Linked DNA regions of Homo sapiens. The protein of the gene in region 1 purifies or fractionates together with the protein of each later gene. This does not show direct contact. Each region holds a gene or a part of one and is shown in the gene's direction. Other genes may lie near its edges. The genes, in order: CRAMP1, PPP4R3A, AKAP11 and ARHGEF9.

Evidence for each region.
Region 2: the proteins of CRAMP1 (region 1) and PPP4R3A purify together in Homo sapiens (affinity purification with mass spectrometry; 2 studies listed by BioGRID and IntAct, with this or other methods). This does not show direct contact.
Region 3: the proteins of CRAMP1 (region 1) and AKAP11 purify together in Homo sapiens (affinity purification with mass spectrometry; 2 studies listed by BioGRID and IntAct, with this or other methods). This does not show direct contact.
Region 4: the proteins of CRAMP1 (region 1) and ARHGEF9 purify together in Homo sapiens (co-immunoprecipitation; one large-scale study listed by IntAct). This does not show direct contact.

What each region holds. Positions count from the first base shown.
Region 1 is NC_000016.10:1,614,263-1,620,388, forward strand, and holds part of CRAMP1 (protein cramped-like), read left to right. Parts: intron 1-376; 5' UTR 377-377; coding exon 378-723; intron 724-6,126.
Region 2 is NC_000014.9:91,457,004-91,463,129, reverse strand, and holds the end of PPP4R3A (serine/threonine-protein phosphatase 4 regulatory subunit 3A), read left to right. Parts: intron 1-252; coding exon 253-395; intron 396-890; coding exon 891-1,081; intron 1,082-1,522; coding exon 1,523-1,749; intron 1,750-4,260; coding exon 4,261-4,371; 3' UTR 4,372-5,622; downstream 5,623-6,126. UniProt on the Homo sapiens protein: Regulatory subunit of serine/threonine-protein phosphatase 4. May regulate the activity of PPP4C at centrosomal microtubule organizing centers.
Region 3 is NC_000013.11:42,276,871-42,282,996, forward strand, and holds part of AKAP11 (A-kinase anchor protein 11), read left to right. Parts: intron 1-6,126. UniProt on the Homo sapiens protein: Binds to type II regulatory subunits of protein kinase A and anchors/targets them.
Region 4 is NC_000023.11:63,679,486-63,685,611, reverse strand, and holds part of ARHGEF9 (rho guanine nucleotide exchange factor 9), read left to right. Parts: intron 1-6,126. UniProt on the Homo sapiens protein: Acts as a guanine nucleotide exchange factor (GEF) for CDC42. Promotes formation of GPHN clusters.

The sequences.
Region 1 (6,126 bases):
ACCCGCAACCGTGCCCAGACCCGCGCCCGCGCCGGGGCTCCCATAGACCCCGGGGCCGGGGCCGGGGCCGGGGCCGGGCAGGGTCCGCCGAGCTGTCGCGCCCTCCCGCCGCCGGCCCGGGCGTCTGGACGCGAGCCTCGGCCAGGGGGCGTCCGGGGAGGCCCGGGAGGGTCCCGGGCTGGTGGGCAGGGCCGGGGGCGGCGGCGTGGGGGCGGCAGGGGCCGCGGCGGGCTCGGGCGGGCTCGGGCGGGCCGGGCCGAGCCGCCGAGAGGGGATTTGGAACAAACAACGGCGGCCATGTTGAGAGCGCGTCGGGGCCGCTAAACTTCCCGGCCTGCGCCCGCCTCACCGGCCGCCTCCCCTCTCCCGGCCGCAGGATGACAGTGAAGTTGGGCGACGGCGGCAGCGGGGAGGACGGGCTCAAGAAGCTGGGCAAGCGGGCGGCCGATGAGGAGTCCCTGGAAGGAGAAGGGGCCGGCGGCGCAGACGCGGCCGAGGAGAGCAGCGGCACAAAGAGGGACGAGAAGACCCCCCGGGCCGGCGCCGACGGCCCCCCCGCGCCCCCCGGCGCGCCGCAGGCGCCGTCCCCGCCGCAGGGCAGCCCCCAGGACCAGCACCACTTCCTCCGGTCCAGCGTGCGGCCGCAGAGCAAGAGGCCCAGGAAGGATCCTCCGAGCGCTGTGGGGAGCGGCAACGCCGGTGGCTCGGGGCCCCGCGGAAAAGGTAGGGCGGCCCGTCCCCTTGGGAGACCCCAGCCCCTCTCCGGGGTGTGCCGCGGGGGAGAGGAACCCCTCGCCCCAGCCGGGCTCCACCCTAGCTCACCCATCCCGCGGCCTACACTGAGGCTCTCAATTTGGGTGGCACTTATGGGGCATGTGTCCCCTCTCTCCTTCGAAGAGGCTGCGACTTTCTATATTTAAACTCTTTGAAGAGGCAGTGAGTATCCTTTTTTGGGGGGGAGTCGAAGAGATCCCTTAAAGCTGTTTCCTTTCCAAAGGATCACTGATGGTTTTCTATGGTTTTGTGTTTCAAACAGCGGACAATAGTTCGGAAACGGGAAGAGAAAAAAATACCTGCTGTATCTCTTTCCCAGACATCAGGCGGTGGAAATGCACCAAGGGAGCAGGCTTTTGAAACTCATTGGGGGGAAGATGGGTAAGAAGCGGAGAAAGGATCCTTGGGGTCTGACTTGGACCCATTGTCCTCTCCTTCAAGTGCTCCTGGGTTGAGAGTAGGAAGGGCATAGAGATGGGGCCCTTTGAGTTGCAACTGGGGTTTACTTCTGTGCCAAAGAAAGGAAAGAGTGGTGAAAACGATTGACATGAACAAGCAGCAGCTTGTAGTGTTCGCCCTTGTATTCTGAGGTGATGGAGAATGTTGCTACTTAGCTGGGGTCTCTTACCAAGATAGTAAGAAAACGGCATGTTAGTTTCGTTCTCCATGTGCCAGTGCTTCATTGTTGTCTGCTCTTATTTCTATTTCAGTCTTGTGCTTTTCCTTACGCAGGTGAATGACTCTGATTCTTTTTGTTTCCGACCATGTTCGCAGCACTTTGTATAAATAGCAAATATAACATCAGCTTCCAGTGAGTTTCACGTGAAAAAAAAATCTTTCACTTCCTTCCTTGGGAAATGCTCGTTTACATTTAGTGAATGGTCCTGGTAGTTTTGACAAGGAAATATATTACGAACTAATGGAGAACCTGCTTTGGAGATCTGTGCCACATGTGTTCCATTAAGCCCACTTCTCCTGCCGCATTCTCAACCGAAGAAGGCTGGCCTCCGGAATCATGGCCTTACTCATTGGTAAAGAATTCTGATATAAGTATACTTATTTAAAGATGTAAATAGAAGGTAACTTAGCATGTTTCAGAATTTAAAACTTGCCTCATATGAATTTATTTTGATGTGAAAGTTGCTGATCAATTTGGAAAACATGAGTGGCTTTGCTTGTTACTAGTTTTTTATTGCTAGTTACAGGTATGTCTAAGCTCATATAAGCTCCATGGTTCCTTCAAAGGTTTGTTGTTCATGGTTCAGAAGCCCTGGACCTTGAATCCAGCCGGCATTCGTCCCCCATGTCCCTGGCCTCCAACCTTGCTCTGCCCCTTCACCCTCTTGGAGATGCTTTTCTGTCGGGTGTCCTCACCTGTGAGGCAAGGAATGAGAGCAGCTACTTCACCCCGTTGAAGTGCGGCTGCTAAAATGAAATAGTGCATTGGTGTGAAAGCACTCTCAGACGTGTACGTGGCTACTTGTATGTATAAGTGAAGTGCTGCTGAGACGTTAGTGATCAGGTCAATTTTTGGCAGTTGGGACGAGGGGAGGCTTGCTTTTGTTTGTATAGTTGAGAGTGGCTTGCTAAGGTGCAGAAGGTTTCCTGAGCTTGGCTCACACTTAGGTTGCTGGCACTTCTTTCTTTGCTTCTTGTCCCATTGTGTGGCTTGGAGAAGCGTGGGACTTTTCATTAAGTTTTAATATTAATAAAATGCAAATTTATTAGAATTTGTGCTCCTCGTGACATATCCATTATCCCACTTTAGCAAGCAAATATATCTTTTTTTTTTTTTTGAGACTGAGTCTCACTCTGTCACCCAGGCTGGAGTGCAGTGGTGCGATCTCAGCTCATTGCAAGCTCTGCCTCCCAGGTTCACACCATTCTCTTGCCTCAGCCTCCCAGGTGGCTGGGACTACAGGCGCCTGCCACCACACCCAGCTAATTTTTTTTTTTTTTTGGTATTTTTAGTTGAGACGGGGTTTCACCGTGTTAGCCAGGATGGTCTCGATCTCCTGACCTTGTGATCCTCCCGCCTCAGCCCCCCAAAGTGCTGGGATTACAGGCATGAGCCACCGCTCCTGGCCACAAGCAAATATATCTTTAAGCAAATAATAAGCTAAGCTGTGATGGTGGCTTTTAGGAGAGGAGTAGGAAGTGGGTCTCCTTTGCATCACAGAACTTCTCGGCCACTGTCTGCCTTGGAGCTTCCCGGGAAGGAAGGCTGCCTGTCCGCTGCTCTCTGCTTTCAGGTTCCTCAGTGCTTTGGGAGGCACTTCACTGTGCCCAGGACATCCTCTGACACCAGTCTTTGGAGAGACCTCTGCTCAGTCGTTGCTTCCATTACCCGTCAGAAAAGAAGGCCAGGTGGTGGCAGTTGCCCCGCAACAGTCTTTAGCTCACCTTCCAGAAAGATGCTCAGAGGAGAATCCTCTTACATTCTGGAGAAATCTGCATCTGGAGTGGTGAGCATCTGTCAGGGAGGAAACGATCAATACTTCATGTTTCAATTTTTCACTTGGAAATGATGTAACTTCTATTATGCCTAAGGAATACTTAGCTCAATCACTGGCAGTTCCTTTGGTTGATTACTTACTGCCCTGGCCAGTTTCAATCTCAGTGGGCCTGAGACTCTTACAGTGAATTTGGAAGAAAGGACTTGTGGAGAAAAGGAAAGTCTGCTTGTTTGGCTTTTCTGCATGCAAGTGTGTTTTCTTTCTCTGAAGAAGACACTCTTATTGACTTCAATGAAAAATGCTTTTTTTTCTAGTTCAGTTTCAAATTTAAATCTTCTTGCATTGATAAAGCGATGGTAGCTGGGATTTAGTGCCTGTTTGCCAGGCATCTTGCATGTCTGTAATTTTGCTTTTAAATGAGTGCAGAACCTGAAGTAGATTGTTTAAGTCACATGCTCAACCTAAACTCAAGGTAAGCTGCAGACCAGAAATCCCAAAACAGACATTCCTGCAGCTCTAATACACCACCCACGTGACCCTGGGACGCACTGGAGATTTCGGCTTAGAGCCGCAGAAACCATCTGAAAGACATAAGTCAGGAGACAGAGTCCTGATACCTTTCCCTATTTGGCCAGTTCATGATCCAGCTAGCCCTGGGCAAACTAGTCCATCTTTTGGATAAAATAAACACCTGCCTCAGAATCGCTTGAACCCGGGAGGCGGAGGTTGCAGTGAGCCAAGATTGCGCCATTGCACTCCAGCCTGGGCAACAAGGGTGAGACTTAGTCTCTAAATAAATAAATAAATATAAAAATAAACACCTGCCTTAAGTCACAAGGTGTTTTACAGGCACCTGGTGTTTCTGCCATGAAAAATGCATGCAGCTTCAAGATTACAGGACTGCAGGAGGAGGCTGCACAGGCTGGCGGGGTGGGGAGCCTACCTGTGGGGTGAGTAGAAGTCCGGGAATGCTGGTGCTCTGCTGGGGCAGATGGGATGAGAGAACACTGGGGGTGGGGACAGAGAGCCTCTGCTTATTTTGGTCCCCCTCTCACCCCGAAGAACTTCAGTTCCATCAAGGATGGGGAAATGCACCATCTCCAGAATAGGGTAATGTAGTCTGAAGTGACAGTCGTTTGTGTGTAGGAATCGGTAAACGACTGTGCACAATTTACTCTTTATATTTTGTATAATCTGTGGACTGTTTGTAGTTTCTAGATGTTTCAAAAAGATGTCTCATAAGAGATTGTACCTGTAGTCCTAGCTACTCAGGAGGCTGAGGTGGGAGGATCACCTGAGGCTGCTGGTTGGAGGCTGCAGTGAGCTGTGGACATTGCACTCCAGCCTGGGTGACACAACAAGACCCTGTTTCAAAAACAAAACAAAACCAAAAAAGATAAAGTAGGTAAGGCAAAATTTGAACATTGGTTTGAAGGCTGAGCTGCTTTTCAAATACCTGTATACTTTTGGTATTAAAACTAGTTTCTGTGGTGTCTGTTGTTGTGAAGTTGTCTAATGAGGTAGACTTTTCGATTTTCATTTTTGTATCTTATTGTGGCTTATGTAAGGATATAACAGGGAGATGATTCATGATTGCAAAGTCAGAAATGTGAAAATTAACATCGTTGTATAAAGTGGTGTGTAGAAGCTCTTTGTCACATAAGTAACAACAGCGGGGTTTTGTTTTTTGTTTTTGTTTTGTTTTTGAGACGGAGTCTCATTCTGTCGCCTGGGCTTGAGTGCAGTGCTGCGATCTCAACTCACTGCAATCTCCGCCTCACAGGTTCAAGCAATTCTCCTGTCTCAGCCTCCTGAGGAGCTGGGACTACAGGCGCATGCTGCTACACCCGACTAATTTTTTTTATTTTAGTAGAGATGGGGTTTTACCGTATGGCCCAGGCTGGTCTCGAACTCCTGAGCTCAGGTGATCCGCCTGCCTCGGCCTCCCAAAGTGCTAGGATTTCAGGCGTGAGCCACTGCGCCCGGCACAACAGCGTTTTTAACACTAAAGAACCACGTTAGAAACACTGAAAAAAGGAGACATTTCCAGGAGTTTGTAGTTTAGTTGGGATATCTTGCAATACCTACAGGATACAATTAGAAAATCTGCTGGTATTTCATGAAGAGGGCATACGCTTTTATACAAACAGTGGAGTTCTAGTTGTATTTCTCTCAAATATTTGTAGGAGGGGAAAGGGAGAATCTTCAAGAGAGACAGCGCTGGTCAGAGCATGCAGGAGGACGCTGAGCCTTGCAGGCACTGAGGGTGGGAGTCCCGGCAGAGAAGGGGACAGTATGAGTGACTCCCAGAGGGTGTCGTGGAGACCATTAGGTTTTAGGTCAGCTTCAGAACCTGGAAGAGGACATCTCAGAGTCTGGCGACCCTGACCAGGGCTCTTGCAGGCACGCCTGGAGTGTGGACCAGATCTTTAGATTGATGGGACAATGCGAGGTCAGGAGGGGTCCCGGTTTGCTCACCGACTGCCTGTCGTATAGGATGGAGCGACACCACTGCGTGTGCATGACGATGGAGCTGGGTAGGGGAGGCTCAGAACTCATCCGAGATGACACCTTGCCTGCGGCTTGGCTTGCTTGAAGGGTCCCCCCATGTGACCTTGGAGATGGTATCCACCAAGCCCTCACCCACAACTCTGGCTCCAAGACCAGAGCTGCTGGCACCAGCATCTGATGCGATGTCTTGTGTTAGGAGAGGCACGGAATGCCTCAGGAGACTTGGAGGTGGACGCGTTGGACCTCTGCAGTTTCTGCGCCATCCTTGGCCTCCTGGGAAGGGTCCCTGCTGTCTTATGCTGCAGACGTAGGCCATGAGGACGTTTCCCGGTGCTGGGGTTGGGGCACGGTCAAGTCTGGAGATGCCCTTCCACGAGCGGGTGTC
Region 2 (6,126 bases), on another chromosome or scaffold:
CATGCCATTGCACTCCAGCCTGGGCAGTAAGAGCAAAACTCCATCTCAAAAAAAAAAGACCCATAGATAAATTGGGGACTACTATAGTAGCCAGTGTACGTTATTCCCATTTTTTATTGTTTGGTTATCTCTAAGATTATGTAGTTTTATTAAATTAAGCTATTTTTGGTGGGTATGAATTGATTAAATTAAGCCTCATCTTGCTAAAATGACATTTTCCTATCATTTTTTCATTACTATTCTTTTCTGTAGGAAGATATAAAATCATTAACTGCTCATGTAATTGAAAATTACTGGAAAGCACTGGAAGATGTAGATTATGTACAGACATTTAAAGGATTAAAACTGAGATTTGAACAACAAAGAGAAAGGCAAGATAATCCCAAACTTGACAGGTAAATTACCATATATTTAAACCTATTCGTTCAGCATCAAGTCGTATGGTAGTGGCTTTATTGTTTATTTGATATTATTTGGCTTGACAAGGAACAGGGAAATCAGCAGATAGCAAATAGAAATTGTAGCTTCCTGTAAGGGTCAACATAAATGTTTCCCTGAAGATTAGGCTGGTTATTAGTATAATACCTCAGGCATGTATCAGGCTAGATAAGGGAAAAAAAAAAAAAAAGACCAAACAGTGGAAGTGAGGCTTCATGTGTTCCAAATAAAATCAGAGGATTATATTACTTGCTTTGAATTTACAAGTTACTAAGGTTACAAATTATTATTTAAAATTTTGTACATTAATCTAAATACCTGGATTTACATTGATACTTTAATATTTGTAAATTTCATGTTAATTCCCTATGTTAACAAGTTTAATAAGTCATCTGTAACAGTACAATTAAGTCCATATATGATTGTATTTACTCTTTCTTCCCTACTCATAGTATGCGTTCCATTTTGAGGAATCACAGATATCGAAGAGATGCCAGAACACTAGAAGATGAAGAAGAGATGTGGTTTAACACAGATGAAGATGACATGGAAGATGGAGAAGCTGTAGTGTCTCCATCTGACAAAACTAAAAATGATGATGATATTATGGATCCAATAAGTAAATTCATGGAAAGGAAGAAATGTATGTTGGAAAAAAATGGGCAAGAGAAAATTAAGGCTTTCTTACTCTAGATTTATTCTTATTTCTTGACAAAATGATTATTTGCTTGGAAGGTGTGATGGCATACGGTTTAAAGACTCTATTGCTTTATGGGATGTGACTGAATAGCAGTGTTGTGTAGGCATAAACTTAAGTTTTCTTAATTTGAGTTGAATAAGGAATATACTATTTCAGGAAGGGTAGGGATACTAAATATGATTCTGAAGGTTTCAATTCTTCTCTGGGGTAAGATCCAATGAATGGAATTGTGGTTAGTATTTTGGTAAGCTTCTTTTATAAATTGAACTTCAATGTTTCTACCCAGCGTAGTAAGCTAGTTAAATGTGTTTTAGTGTTACCTCATTTGGGGAAATTTAAAAAAGAAGTATGGGGGACGACTATTGACAGTATTCTCATTTTTAGTAAAAGAAAGTGAGGAAAAGGAAGTGCTTCTGAAAACAAACCTTTCTGGACGGCAGAGCCCAAGTTTCAAGCTTTCCCTGTCCAGTGGAACGAAGACTAACCTCACCAGCCAGTCATCTACAACAAATCTGCCTGGTTCTCCGGGATCACCTGGATCCCCAGGATCTCCAGGCTCTCCTGGATCCGTACCTAAAAATACATCTCAGACGGCAGCTATTACTACAAAGGTACATTCTTGACTCCCATTTTGCCCCCTTTTTTCCCAATTGAAGCTTTCTCAACAATAATTTTGACTAAGATTCCCTTTGGTTACTGCCACCTAGAACTGATTTAACATCCCTGAACTAGAGGATGAGTCCCCCCCACCGCTTGAACTTATATAAAGGTTGAGAAATTTCTGAAAGTTTTTTTTATGACCAATGCAAGTCTGCATATAGTGTGAATTCTCACTTGGGTATTTTGGATTTTAGAACTGAAACTTCAAATTTGTATGTCAAAACATTTACAGAAATGTTCAAGGTTTTCAGTTATTCTTGAATAAATGTTCCTAACTAATACCCAGATAAAGCCTTTGTGGGGAAATGATAATCTAAATATCTGGGTACTTCTAACTTTACTTTGCCAGTTAAGGTTTGTTAAGAAAATTAAACATCTACTATCACTAACATTTCATATAAGAAATGAACAAGGGCTGGGCACGGTGGCTCACGCCTGTAATCCCAGCACTTTGGGAGGCTGAGGCGGGCAGGACACGAGGTCAGGAGATCGAGACCGTCCTGGCTAACGTGGTGAAACCCCGTTTCTACTAAAAATACAAAAATTAGCCAGGCGTGGTGGCGGGCGCCTGTAGTCCCAGCTACTCTGGAGGCTGAGGCAGGAGAATGGCATGAACCTGGGAGGCGGAGCTTGCAGTGAGCTGAGATCGCTACTGCAACAGCGAGACTCCATCTCAAAAAAAAAAAAAAAAAAAGGAACAAAATCTTAAGAAAAAATGTAGAAAACATGCAATCTCAGAATAAAACCAGTTTTGGGGGCTCCTTATGCCAACCACCCTTTTCTTTTGAGACATAATATATTGATTATTGGGCTAGCAGACTAGCAGTTAAAAGACTGGCATTTGGGAATCACTGATCTAAATCAGACACGTAATGCCCATTCAGTCTTTTTTTTTTCTGGCGTGAGCTGGAGACTCCTGACGGCTAAGAAGTGAATCTGAGACACGCTGAAATGAAGAGGCAGGCTTGAGAGCAGAGCAGTGTGAATTTTTCCCTTAGCATCGAAATAAAGCAAGCAGCAGCCAGGCGCGGTGGCTTACGCCCGTAATCCCAGTGCTTTGGGAGGTCCAGGGGGGTGGGTCACGAGGTCAGGAGATCCGAGACCATCCTGGCTAATACGGTGAAACCCCGTCTCTACTAAAAATACAAAAACATTAGCCGCGTGTGGTGGCGGGCGCCTGTAGTCTCAACTACTCAGGAGGCTGAGGCAGGCGAATGGTGTGATCCCGGGAGGTGGAGCTTGCAGGGAGCTGAGATGGCGCCACTGCACTCCAGCCTGGGCGACAGAGTGAGACTCCATCTCAAAAAATAAATAAAGCAAGCGGCAGTGGTTTCTGGTGAAGGAGCAGGGCTAAAAGGAAACCCAGATGAAATGATGAGGAAGAGTCAGGGTAGAACTGCTTTCCTAACCTCTAATAAATAGAAAAAGCCTGTCTACCCTCATTTCTGGTGGTCTCTTTATCTGCTGCAGTTTTCATTTTGGTACTTTTTTTTTTTTTTGACAGAGTCTCAGTCTGTCACCCAGGCTGGAGTGCAGTGGCGTGATCTTAGCTCACTGCAATCTCCACCTTCCAGATTAAAGCGATTCTTGTGCCTCAGCCTCCCAAGTAGCTGGGATTACAGATGTGCACCACCACACCTGGCTAATTTTTGTAATTTTATTAGAGACAGGGTTTCACTATGTTAATTAACAGGCCAGGCTGGTCTCAAACTCCTGTCCTCATGTGATCCCTCCGCCTCAGCCTCCCAAAGTGCTGGAATTACAGGCACAGGCCACCATGCTCAGCCTCATTTTTATACTATTTTAGACTTTATGTTTAAAAAAATTTTAAGATGCTATTAAGTCTTGAAACAAACATTTTTCATTCATTTTCTAACTCCTGGGTAATTTGCTAGGATTATAAACTACTTAAATTTTTTTGCTTTAGTTTGGGTGCAGTGGCTCATGCCTGTAATCCCAGCACTTTGGGAGTCCAAGGTAGGTGGATCGCCTGAGGTCAGGAGTTCAAGACCAGGCTGGCCAACATGACAAAACCCTGTCTCTAGTAAAAATACAAAAATTACCCAGGCGTGGTGGCGGGCGCCTGTAATCACAGCTACTCGGCAGGCTGAGGCAGGGAGAATTGCTTGAACCTGGGAGGTGGAGGTTGCAGTGAGCCGAGATCGCACCACTGCACTCCAGCCTGGGTGACATAGCGAGACTCCGACTTGGAAAAAAAAAATTTTTGCTTTAATTCTAATTAACTCAAAGTTTTCCCTTATTGTAAAAAAGTATGCATGTTTATTACAGGAAATTTAGAAAATATGTAAACATAATGAATTGAAGTTTAACACAGTCCCACCACCCAGAAATAACCACCGTTACTATGTTGGTAGGATCTATTTTCTTTCTCCAGCCAGAAAACACCAGTGTTTTTATATGTTTTATTTTCTGTTCTTTAAATAATCCTTATTTCTTAACAGGGAGGCCTCGTGGGTCTGGTAGATTATCCTGATGATGATGAAGATGATGATGAGGATGAAGATAAGGAAGATACGTTACCATTGTCAAAGAAAGCAAAATTTGATTCATAATAATGGCAACGGCCTAGGATCAGTACCTGTTGAAAAAAACTGGTTCTCCACCCCTCCCCCATACAAAATCCACAACAAAGCGCAGTGGTCTCTTGTGAATGACTGACACAGATCAGCCTCTTACACTTGACTTCTGCTCATCAAGTGCCAATTCAATGGAGCAGGAGGAGGGGATATCATATATTTAGGGGAAAGACTTAAGCCTTTGAGCTCTCCAGCTTGGACCACACATTGCCCTTTTCTCAGGGAAGGAAATGGAAACAAAAAGCCAACAGGGCAGGGGTTTTGTAAGTGGAACTCTGGATTGACTGGTCAGTTGCTACAATCAGAATATGCTTTCTTGGACCATGTTTGAGACTCAGAAGAATGGGCCTTTCTGCCATAATTCTTCACTAGTCAAGAATGCCAGCAGTTTCTTTGTATAAAGAGACCTGCCTTTAAAATCATACATTCTGAACATTTTAGTCAAGCTACAACAGGTTTGGAAAACCTCTGTGGGGGAGGGGCGAGTATAAAGTTTTCCTCTTTTTTAACTGTTCCCTTTGCCCTTCAAACTGCAGATATTTTTTTTTTTAAGTGGGGACTTCTCCCTACTTGATTAAAGATTGAGTGGAATTCTAGATGTGGTCATTTGTGTCATAATTTTTTTGTTTTATTTTGTTTTTGATTTTTTTTTTCCTCCCCTGAGTGTATGCTTAGTTGTTGAGTATATATATTTGGGACCATTAAAACTTTTTTTGATGTAATATAACCTAACGTTGTGCTGGTACCTGTTTTACCATGTGTAATTTTTGTTCTACATCACAGTTCTTAATTTGTTTAGAGTTTTATGAAAGATGGTATAGTTTTTATTGACAAAAGCAAAGTAATCTTACAACTATGTGCATACAAAAGCAATACTATTTTGTGACTAAATATTTTATATTAAAATTTACATCAGCAACTGTCTTGAGAATTCAGGGAAATAGAATGGAATTTAAAACTTCAACAGTTTTGTTAAATCTAGAAACATGAAATTAGTATTCCAAAGAGATTCTGAAATTTCTTTTCTTGGGGAAATGACGGTACATTAAATCAAAATTGAGGATGGATGATTTAAAAACATTTGACTTTTGAATAATAAAAAGAAAAGTGAAGAGTAAGAGAAATTGTATTAGTTGTATGTTTCTTGTTTTTGTTTTTAACTACTCCCTTTGGAATACCAGTTTGACTTGTAAGTGGTGGTTTCTAAATAAATACCTGGCCAGAGGACCATCACCTGTCACCTTATTAAAACAGTATTTTTAAATAGGTTCTTTTTGTTGTCTTAGATGTGATCAAATTATTTCAAGGAAAATGAAAATAATTCTACTTACCCTCACTTTTTAAAGTGAAGAGTTTAGAACTTAAGAATATATTTTCAAATGTGAATAAAACTTCATATCCAGGAAAGGATGCTATTTTAAGTATCATATACTTTAAGAGTATCTAGCAAGCGCTGTGTGCTTCTCTGTCTTGTCTTGTTTATTCCTCAGTAAATTACAATGGTGGTACCAAAAACAAGACTATACTGCATAGTTGGATAGAAAACCAGAAAGTGTCAACTTGCTACAGTCATTAAAAGTTTTATTATTGGCTGATAATTTTTTTTAACAACAAAAACTTTGGGTGCTTAATTATGAGATTATATCTCACTAGAGTATAGATCTAATTAGGAGGCACAAGTTTTGGCTATTAATAATTGAAGTTAATCAACTTATCTTGCAAATAAAGAGA
Region 3 (6,126 bases), on another chromosome or scaffold:
TCTTAGAGTCATGGCGTCATAGATGTCACTGATAAAAAGAAATGTGTTCCTGGGTTAAAATTCTGAACATATTTTCTGTTAGAAATAGTCTTGTGGATAGGGCTACGTACAAGATTAAGAATGTTACTCCATTTTCTAGGGAGCATATTCATGTTGAAAGCACAATCTCAAGATTTTAGTTTTTTGTTGTTGCATTTTTTTGTAGGTATTCAATTACATAGCATTTTAATTATAGCATATCATCCTTATAATATTGCCATACACATATACAAAGTTTTATTATAAATCAGTTGTTGAAAATATTTTTGAAAGTCAAATATATTACAGATGCACACTCAATAGTGAAACTAAGATAATCATTTGAGGGCATATATCCTTTACAGTGATTTCTTAAAACTGTATTCAAATGTAGGTCTAATGAGTTTTTTATTATGAAAATGTTAACTGTTTTATCCTCCTGCCTTCATCTGATTATTCTAATTAACTTCTAACAATGGACCGTTGCATGTTTAAAAGTTGTGTTTATTGTTGCTGAATAAGTAGTTTTGAAGTCAGTAGCCATTCACACTTAGTACTTTGTCAACTAGACCCATGTTATTCCTTTCAATACCAGTGGCTAGTTGGGCTCAAACATACCTTATAAGTAGATCTCAATCTGGAATGCAGTTGAAAAATCAATAATTTTTCTCTGTGACTGTTTGGGAAAACAAAAGTGACAGAACAAATATTCTTGGATTAATTTTGTAAAAAGTCATTAGGTAAGTGGCCCTATTTTCTATTTGGTGATGTTGCTTTTGCCACCAAATGCCTGTCTGCATTCACGTCATTGATGAAATTTCTCTTCACCGTACAGCTCGTTCACTTCAGTAAATCTATAGTTGCTTATTATGAGTAAGGCCTTTGGGGAATGCAGAGATGAGTAAGGCATGGCGATGGAATGAAATTCACTGTTGTATCCCAATCACTGTTACTTAGACGCTTGGTGAATGTATGTGTTGAACGTTGGTAGTACTTACAGTCCAGTGCAGGGCATAGACATGTAGACATTTAACTGTTACATAAGGCACTGTAGTCTAAAGTGCTAAAATAGGGTAAGTGGTGATTTTGCTCCCCAAGGAAATGTTTGGTAATATTTGGAGACAGTTTTGGTTACTGCAACTGAGTGCTACTGGCATCTAGTGGGTAGAGGCCAAGGAAGCTGCTAAGTGTCCTACCATGCATACACAGCCTCCTACAACAAAGACTTATCTGACCCAAAATGTTAGTAATGCTGAGATTGAGAAACTCTGTAGCGGTAAGAACATATATATTGTGAATGCAGGAATGAGGTTGAGGATTAAAAAGGAAAAAGGCAGAAACTATAAAGAAGCAAATATCTTAATAGATATTAAGACATACTAAAATCATTTTATACGATTGACTGTTGTTTTGAAAAACAAAATAGTATCTGATAGCTGTAGTAGTTTTAGATTTTGTAAGTCAAATAACAGGTCTGTACCCAAGAAAGGAACTTAGCTTCCTTATTTGCAAAAAGGGGGATAACATCACTTTTATTCTGCTGTTCACCTATTAGGTATTATTCTGTTTTATTTTTCTAGTGTTTGTGTTAGGGTTTACAAGATAACTTATTACAGGTTTTCTTCAAATAACATCACTTCATGTTTAATGTAGAAATCTATGACAGTCTTTTTTTGTCTCCATCTCCCCTGCCACATTTTTTATCCTATTTTGTCATACATTTTATCAATATGTCTGTCTTAAACCCTCTAATTAATTGTTACTATTTTTAAACAGTTATATTTTAACTGTTTAAAAGGGATTGAAAAATGAAGAATAACTTCTGTTACCCTCATATTTACCATTTCAGATGTTCTTTATTCCTTCGTGTAAGATTCAGATTTCCATCTGGTATTGTTTTACTTTGCCTGAAGAATTTCTTTCCATAGTTACTCTAGTGGTGGTCAACTGGTGGTGAATTTTCACGGCCCTTATTCATGTGAATAAATTTATTTTGCCTTAATTTTTGAAATACATTTTCATTGAGTATATCTGGGTTGATGCTTTTTTTTTTTTCTTCTTCTTAGTACTTTGAAGATAGTGCTCCATTGTCTTGTTTTCCGGTTCATATAGATGTGAAGTCTGTTGTCCTTGGTTCCTCTGTATATAATGTGTACTTTTTTTCTGGTCAATTAATATTTTTTCTTTATCACTGGTTTTCAGCCATTTGGTTATGATTTGCCTTGGCTTTCTTTATGTTTATTCTTAGGGTTTGCTGAGCTTCCTTGGTACTGTCAGTTTACGGTTTTCATCAAATTTGGGAAGTTCTCTGCTATTTTGTCTTCAAATTTTTTTTTCTTCTGCACCCACTTCCCCAGTGCACGCACGTGCACACCCACACACACACACACACACTCTCTCTCTCTCACTCACTCACTCGCTTACTCACTATGTCTCTTCGTGGAACTCCAGTTATTCACCTTTTATGGTGCTTAAAAAGTCACTTACACTCTACGTTTGTTTTTAAGTTTTGTCTCTCCATGTTTCATTTTGGATAGCTTCTATTACATTGTCTACAAGTTCACTGAGCTTTTCTTCTCTAGTTTAATCTGTTAATTGTATCCAGTATGGTTTTCGTTTCAGTATATTTAATTTTCATCTCTAAAAGTTCAATTTTGGTGTCTTTTGTATCTTCTCCTTCTCTCCTTATGGTGATGTTTTCCTCTCACTTCTTGAGTATATGGAACATATTTGTACTATAGTTTTACAATCCTTTTCTGTTCCTGCCATCATCACTGTCATTTCTAGGTCTTCATTTATTGCCTTTTTTTCTCTTGGTTATGGTTCATATTTTTCTCTTCCTTTGCATGCTTGGTAATTTTTATTGTATGCCAGCCATTGAGTTTATACTGTTGCTTGCTTGATTTATTATATTACTGAAGTGTGTTGGATTTAGTTGGGGTGCACAGTTACTTGGAATCTGTTGGGTTGTTTCAGGGCTTGCTTTTAGAATTTATTAGTGTGGGTCCAGAACAGTTTTTAACGTAGTGCTGAATTATTGTCTCTACTAAGGCTGCTTCTACTAAGGCTGCTACTTCTTCTGAGGAGTCTATCATTACCTGATACATTACAAGGTTTTTCTATTCTGGTGGAATATATTATGGTTTATCTCTAGGGCTCTCACTTACTTTCAGCTCTCCCTCCAGCTTAATACCCTGTAAATTCTAGCCATCTTGGTCTCTCCAAACTGATCTGTGTTTAAAACTCAGTGAAACCACCAGACTGCTTGGCTTTCCTGTCCCTGTATTGTGACCTGGAAGTAGCTGGCAGCCAGTGTTTCCCTTCTCTCAGGGATCACAATCCCGTGTTCCCTGTTGTCTGATGTTTAAAACCAATGTTTCATATATATTCTGTCCTGTTTTCTTGTAGTTATATTCAACAGAATATTAATTTTTAACACTTGGCCATTTGGCATTTGGTCAAAATGTGTATTTGGAGTGTTTACTCTAAATGTGATCTCAGATACTATAAAGTAGAAATTATTGGAAACACAAATGTATTTTCACAAACTCATTAAATGTAGACATACTCATTTAAATATTTGAAGGCATACTTTGCTCTTTATTCTGTTTTATATTTTTCAGCCTACATCATGCTTTGAACTTTGTTCTTTAAATATGTTACTTTTTATTTATTAGTTCAGCAGATGTTTGAATGCCTACTATGTAAAAATACATAAAACACTTTTGTCCTCATGGAACTTACAACAGGAGGGAAGTATGCAAACAGTGGCACCAGAGGATTAAATTATAAACCACTTAGAGAGCACAAAGGAGGTGGTTACTATTTGGGCAAGGAGGGATAAAGGAGAGATATGAGCCAAGCCTATTTTAGGGAGGGAAGTTTTTGAACTGGTGCGTGAATAGTAAGTAGCAGTTCAGCTGGTGGAAGAGAGAGGGTAGATTTGAGAGAAGTTTAGGAGAATGACAAGTCAGGATTTGGCAATTTACTAGGCGAGGTAGTCTGTAGGAATTGAGGGGAAGACCAGTTTCCAGCTTGGCCTACTGGTTGGGTTTGGTTTAATGGCTCTTACTGAGATAGAGAATACAGGAGGAGATCGTTTAGGGAGAAAGTTTTATTTACCTTTTGAACATACAAATTTTGGAGTAACTGGGATATTTAGTTGGAAGTGTCTAATAGGAAATTAGATATACAGAACTGAAGAATAAATTAGGGAGTTATTTGCATAGTTAAAACCAGAGGTAAGGATAAAATGTCCTTGAAAAACTAAATAAAATGAGACAAGAGGATAAGGATGAAGACTAAGAAATATTAGTATTTGAGTAACAAGTTATGAAATAATTTAGGAAAGGAAACTTACATACAGAGAGACAAGTTTTTCTCAACCAGAAATTACATGTGGCAGTTGTTAAAAGTACAGATTCCTATGTTCCATGTAGACCTGTTGAATTTGGATCTTCTGGTGGGGGAGTTGTGTGTGTTAGAAATAAGCTGATGTGTACAGGTACTGAGGTTTGAGAACTAGTGCAGTAGGAAGAGAGTCAAGATATGGCAATATTGTTGACAGGCGCTTCACAGACTGGCATAGTTAATTCTCCTGATACAAAAAAGGTCAAGTAATAGGTGATGTCAACTTGAACATTTCTTAGGTCAGAGGAGATAAGGAAAGACTTGGAGAATATATATTTTTTAATTATAAAAGAATTTATGTTCATTCAGAAAAGTACAAAACTCAACATACATAGACACAAAATGAAACACCCATGATTGTATCTACCCAGATGAAACCAATGTCTGTACTCATCTAGTGTATGTCTTCTTTTATATTACATATATAGATACACACATGTAGTTATACAGATTTTTCACAAAATGGGATAATGCTAATATGCCAGAACCTGTCTTATTTTACTTAATGATCTACCATCTTCTCATATTGTAGATAGATGACATTTTATAAAATTTAAAAGTCCCACTTGCATGGGTGACCACTGGCATCAGTTTAGTGTACCTCCTTCAAGTCATTTCCTGTGGATGCACAAATATTTACATATGTGTGTCAGAGTTGTGTCTGTATATAATTTTTTCTTTCTTTTTTTTTTTTTTTTGAGACTCTGTGGCCCAGGTTGGAGTGCAGTGGTACAATCTTGGCTCACTGCAACCTCCGTCTCTTGGGTTCAAGCAATTCTTGTGCCTCAGCCTCCCGAGTGGCCGGGATTACAGGCATATACCACCACACCCAGCTAATTTTTGTATTTTTAGTAGAGTCTGGGTTTTGCCATGTTGCCCAGGCTGTTCTTGAACTCCTGGCCTCAAGTGATCTTCCTGCCTTGGCCTCCCAAAGTGCTGGGAGCCACTGTGCTAGGCCAGTCTTTTTTTTTTTTTTTTTTTTTTAAATTACAAGTGAGAGCATCCTATTAACACCATTCTGCAACTTGCTCTTTCACGCCAGTATGGATCACTCTAACTCATTATTTCCAATAGCTGAGTAATAATCATGTGAATTTATTTGAATTGATGAACTTCTAGATTATTTTCAGTTTTTTCATTTTATTTCAGTGAATAGTCTTTCACATATCTTTGTGAATTTTGTGCAAGTATATATGTAGGATAAATTTTAAGAAGTGAAATAGCAGGACTAAAGGATATGTGTATTTATTTAAAGTGCCCTATATCTCTGTTCTCTGTATTCTTTATAATTGTTTCTGTAATTGCTTTCATTTGTTTACTTTTGCATTCTGTGATTTTTCTTAAAATCTTCTTGGTTTTCCATTGTTTTTAGCAATGTCTGTTCTGCTTTTTTGTTATTTCTAAGGGGATTTCATTTGTTTAGTGATAGTTTTCTGTGTGTTTCCTGAGCTATAGTGGTTCACTTCGTAGTTGTTTGCCTTGTCTGCCTCTTTCTTGTCTCTCATCTGCTTTTTTCCAAGCCATGTAGGTTCACTTTAATTTCTTTGACTATAGATAACGCACTTAGTTATTCTTTGCTTAGGACTCTTGTTTCTTCATCCAGAATAGGGCACAAAGCAGTAAAGCACTAAATGAAAAGTTTATCATAATACAAATGTATTTTAGGTGAATATACTGTATTTTTGTTCTTCTTGTGAA
Region 4 (6,126 bases), on another chromosome or scaffold:
CTTGTAATAGTAACCCACTTTCTTGATTAATATAGGTTCATAGCAAGTCTTTAAATCAGATAGCATAACTCCTCCAACTTAGTTCTTTTTCAAAACAATTTTAGCTATTTTAGGTTATTTGTATTTCTATATAAATTTAAGAATAATCTTGCCAAATTTTACCAAAAACAAGCAAACAAAAACCCTATCAGTGTTTTGGTTGGGATTGCATTAAATCTGTGGATCAGTTTTGGGAACATTGATATGATGAGTCTTCAAATCCATGAACATTTAACTGTTTATTTCGATTTTTTTGTGATTTCTCCCAGGATTGTTTTTTAGTTTTCATTGTATGATTTTGACCTTTTAAAATTTGATTGTTTTAAAAAATATTTAAGGTATAAATTTAAGATGTACAATGTGATGTTTTGATATAAATGATGAAGTGATGACTACAGTCAAACAGATTAACATATCATCTCACATAGTTACTTTTTTGTGGTAATAGTATCTAAAATTTACTCTCTTAGCAAATTTCCAGTGTATAATACAATAATGTTGACTCTAGTCCCCATGCTGTAGGTTAGATCTCTAGACTTTTCCTGTGTAACTACAACTTTGTGCCCTTTGACTTATATCTTCCCATTTTCTCCCACCCCCTCACCTCTGGTCACCACCATCCTAATCTGTTTCTATGTATTCATTTTTTTTTTCCTTTTGATTCCACATATAAGTGAAATCATGCAGTAGTTTTCTTTCTGTGACTGGATTATTTCATGTAGCATAATGTCCTCTAGGTTCCTCCATGTTGTGACAAATGACATAATCTCCTTCCCTCCTTCTTTTTAAAGTCTGAATAATATTCTATTCTGTGTCTCTGTATGTATATGTAATATATATATAAATAAATTAAAAATAGAGGTAATTTATTAAAATATAGGCAACATATTACATATACATATACACCCGACAGTTTCTTTACCCATTTATCCATTAATGGACACTTTGTTTGCTTCCACATCTTGGCTATTGTTAATAGTACTGCAATGAACATGGGAGTGCAGATATCTTTACAAGGTAGTGAGTGCATTTCCTTTGGGCATATACTCAAAAGAGGGATTACTGGATAATTTGATAATTCTATTTTTGATTTCTTTGGGAACATCTTAAAGGTATTATTTTCCACAGTGGCTGCTGTACCAATATATATTCCTACTAACAGTGTACAAGGGTCTCCTTTTCTCTAAACCCTTGTCAACACTTGTTATGTCTTATCTTTTTGATAATACCCATCCTAATAGATGCTAGGTTATTTCTCATTGTGGTTTTGATATGCATTTTCCTGATGATTAATGATGTTGAGCATCATCGTATACCTGTTGGCTATTTTTATGTCTTTTTTGGAGGAATGTCTATTCAAATTCTTTGCTCATTTCTTAATTAGTTTATTTGTTTATTTGTTTTTTTTTGCTGTGAAGTGATGTGAGTTCCTTATATATTTTGAATATTAACCACTTTATATATTTTATATATATTAACCACTTTATGTATATTTTGAATATTAACCACTTTACAGTTTGCAAATATTTTCACTCAGTCTATAGGCTACCTTTGCATGTTGTTGACTTTTTTTTTCTGCATAGCAGCTTTTTAATTTGATGCAGTCCCACTTGTTTCTTTTTGCTTTTGTTGCCTGTGCTTTTGGTGTCATATAAAAAAGCACAGCAGTAGTGCTTTTAGTAGTTTTATTATTTCAGCTCTTATGTTTCAGTCTCTTATGCATTTTGAGTTGATTTTTGTGTATGGTCTAAAATATGGGCCCAATTTTGTTCTTTTGCATATAGATATCCAGTTTTTCCAACAACATTTATTGAAGAGACTATACGTTCCCCATTGTGTCCTGTTGGTGCTCTTGTCAAAAATTAGTTCACTATATTTGCTTCGGTTTATTTCTGGACTCTCTATTCTATTACATTGGTATATCTGTTTTTATGCTAGTACCATACTGTTTTGATTTCCATAGTTTTCTAATATTGTTTGAAATCAAAGAGTGTGATGCCTCCAGATTTATTTTTATTTCTCAGAGTTGCTTTGGCTATCAAGGGTCTAGTTTGGTTCCATAGAAATTTTATATATGTTTTTGTCTATTTCCATGAAAAATGCCATTGGAATTTAGATAGGGGTTGTGTTGAATCTCTATATCACTTTGAGTAGTAGGGACATTTTAACAATATTGGTTCTTCCAATCCTTGCACATGGGAAATCTTTCTATTTCTTTGTGTCTTCTTCAGTTTCTTTCATCAGGGTGTTTTGGTTTTCTGTGCACAGATCTTTCACCTTCTTGAATAAATGTATTCCTTAAGTATTTCATTCTTTTTGATGGTATCATAAATATGATTTTTTAAAATTTCTTTTTTTGATACATCATTATAGGTATAAAGAGTGCAACTGATTTTTGTACACTGATTTTTTTTTTGTATCCTGCATCTTTACTGAATTCACTTTTTCTAACAGGTTTTTTTCTTTTTAATTTTTGGAGGGAGTCTTTTGGGCTTTCTACATATATAATCATCTTATCTCCAAATAGGGCTAGTTTACTTCTGATCCAATTTGGATGCATTTTATTTATTTTTCTTATCTGATTGCCATGGTTAGTATTTCTAGTACTATTTTGAATAAAATTGGCAAGGGTGGGCATCCTTGTCTTATACCAGATCTTAGAGGAAAAGCTTTCCATTTTTCACCATTGATTATGATGTTACCTGTGGGCATCTCATAAATGGCCTTTCTTATGCTGAGGAAATTTTTAATATTAATACCTAATTTGTGAAGATATTTTATCCTGAAAGGATGTTGAACTTTGTGAAAGCTTTTTCCACATCTATTGAAATAACCGTGTGGTTTTTAAATTATTCCTTTTGCTAATGTAATGTATCATAATAATTGATTTGGATTTGTTAAGCCATACTTGCATCCCAGGGATAAATCCCACTTGGTCATGATGTATGATCTTTTTGATATGTTACTGAATTGGGTTAGCTACTATTTTATTGAGAATCTTTATACCTATGATCATTAGTGATACTGGCTTGTAGTTTTCTTTTCTTCTTTTTTTTTTTTGACAGAGTCTCGCTCTGTCACCCAGGCTGGAGTGCAGTGGCGCAATGTCGGCTCACTGCAAGCTCCACCTCCTGGGTTCACGCCATTCTCCTGCCTCGGCCTCCCAAGTAGCTGGGACTACAGGCGCCCGCCACCACGCCTGGCTAATTTTTTTGTATTTTTATTAGAGACGGGGTTTCACCATGTTAGCCAGGATGGTCTCGATCTCCTGACCTTGTGATCTGCCCACCTCGGCCTCCCAAAGTGCTAGGATTATAGGCGTGAGCCACAGCGCCTGGCCCTTTTCTTGTATTTCTGTCTGACTTTAGAATCATTTGGGAGTATTCCCTTTAGTTCTTTTATTTATTTATTTATTTATTTATTTATTTATTTATTTATTGAAGAGTTTAAGAGGGATTGCTACTAATTCTTATCTGGGTATTTGGTAGAATTCAGCTGTGAAGCCATCTGGTCCTATGATCTTTTGTTGTTAGGAGATTTTAAATGACTACTTCAATCTCTTTATTTGTTAATGTTCAGGCTCTCTATTTCTTCTTGATTCAATCTTGGTAGGTTTTATATTTCTAGGAATATATTCATTTCCTCTGGTGTTTCCAAGTTGTTGTCATATAATTGTTCATAATAGTCCCTTGTAATCCTTTTCATCTCTGAGACATCTTTTGTAATATCTTCATGTTCATTTCTAATTTTATTTACCTATATTCTTTTTCTCTAAAAACCAAGTCTTAGTTTTGTTGATTTTTTTCCCTAAGTTTTTCTGTTCTCTGATTTATATCTGCTTTGATCTTTTATTTTTTTCCTTCTGCTATCTTTGAGTTTACTTTGTTCTTCTTTTTCTAGTTCCTTGAGGTGGAATATCAGATTGTTTATTTCAGATTTTTTTTAATGCTATCAACGCCCCTCTTAGAACTTTTTTTGCTGCATCCCAAAGGATTTGGTATGTTGTGCTTTCAATTTCATTTGTCTCAAGATATTTTTTAATTTCCCTTTTGATTTTTTCTTTGACCCATTTGTTATTCAGGGATATGTTGTTTAATTTCTACTGATTTAAGAATGTTCTAGTTTTCTTCCTGTTACTGACTTGTAGTTTTATATCATCATGACCAGAAAAGATACTTGATATGATGTTGATCTTCTTAAATTTGCTAAGACTTATTTTGTGGTATAGCATGTGGTCTATTCTGGACAGTATTCCATGTGTGCTTTAGAAGAATTTGTGTGATAGCCTGTCTGCGTGGGTCAGCTTTGGTAACATGTGGTAGTGAGACTAGAATCCCTAGTTTGGGACCCTAGGGCTGTTTGCAGGTACATGCATGGTAGCTGTGCTGGGTCACTGGGCCAGAGCATCCAAGGAGGTAGTACTTGCTTAAGTACCTAGAGAATGCAAAGGCTCCTGTGCTGAGTCCCTTTGCCAAGGCACCTGTGGTAGGAGTAGCTCAGGCAGCTCTGGGCATGGGGGAGGGAAAGCTCTGGTGGATCAGGGATCTGGAGAATGTGAAAGCTGTTGGCCTACATCACCCCTTCCCACTGGGCTATAGTAACCACAGCAGCAGTTGGGCAGCTCTGGGTGGCTCCAGGAAGTAGAGAAGAAGAAGGGACATGGCTCAGGCATGTTTTTTGTTGTTGTTGTTGTTGTTGTTGTTGTTTGTTTGTTTGTTTTTTCTCCTAAAACTCAAAAGGAAGAAAAAACAACCCATGGACCCTTAGCAGTATAAGCTGCAGGGCGTCTGCTGATACTATACTAGCAGTTGGTTTTCTCAGCAGGAAAAGCTGAAAAAGCTTCTGGGGTCTGTGACTGTGAACACTGAAGAATCTTGAGAGGTAAAATCTACAGGAGGTACCCAGTGGCTATGAGGGCTATTGAGGTCCTTGACAGAGAGGCCTACTGGGGCCCTGTGCCAAAGAGGCCACGGCAGATCACTGCGACTCCTGCTACTTTGCTGATACTGATATAACCAATCCCTATTCTTTGCTCTCTGCTGTTTCCAGACATCTAGGCTATATCTGTCTTTTCAGAGATCTGGGTGGGATGAAACTGAAGCTGGTCATTAGGGCAGTGTCCCATAAAGCTGGGGAAGCTGGTTGTACACTCCTGTCTCCTCCCTGTATGTAGGACACAAGATCCAAGATCCAAGTTGCTGTTTCATAATGAGCAGTACCAGCTATGGGGACGGGGTGATGCAAGCAAAATGAAACTGTTTTTCCTACTCGTTTTGTGTATTTGTTTTCTGACTTTTTCTTTCACTATATTGCTGTGGCTTCTTAAGTGGACCCCTAAGCTTTTCCAGAATTATTTTTTGTTCATGGATAGCTACCAAATTGTTGTTGTTTGCTGAAGAAAGGAAGGCGATATTTCCTACTCTGCCATCTTACTGACATCCTCTCCTAAAAGTTGATTTCTAAGTATTTAAAATTTTTTCGGCTGCCATTGTAAGTGGTATTTTAAAATGTCAATTTCCTATAGTCTATTACTATTACACAGGAATACGGTTGATTTTTGTACATTGACTTTGTGTCCTGACACATAACCAAATTCACTAATTGGTTCCAGTATTTTTTTTGTAGATTTCTTAGGATTTTATGCATATACAATTATGTCATCTCTGAAAAAAAGAGTTTAATTTCTTCTTTTTTCAGTCTATATTCTGTCTATTTCCTTTTTTATCTTATTTCACTGGCCGGGATATACAGTACGGTGTTAACTAGAAATGGTGAGAACAGGCATCTTTGTCTTGTTTTGATCTTAGGGGCAAGCATTCAATATTTTACCAAGTAATTAGCTTAACGTTTTTCATGGGTGTCCTTTATTACATTGTGGTAGTGTCTTTCTATTTCTAGTTTGCTGATGTCTTTGTCATAAATTTATTTTCTCAAATGCTTATTCAGCATTATTGAAACGATCATGTAATTTTTCTCCTTTAATCTGTCAATGTGGTAAATTACATTGGGATAAGTCTGTCCTGATCATGGTATATTATTCTTTTTATGTGCTATTTTGCTTGTTTTTCAACCCTTATATAACAACTC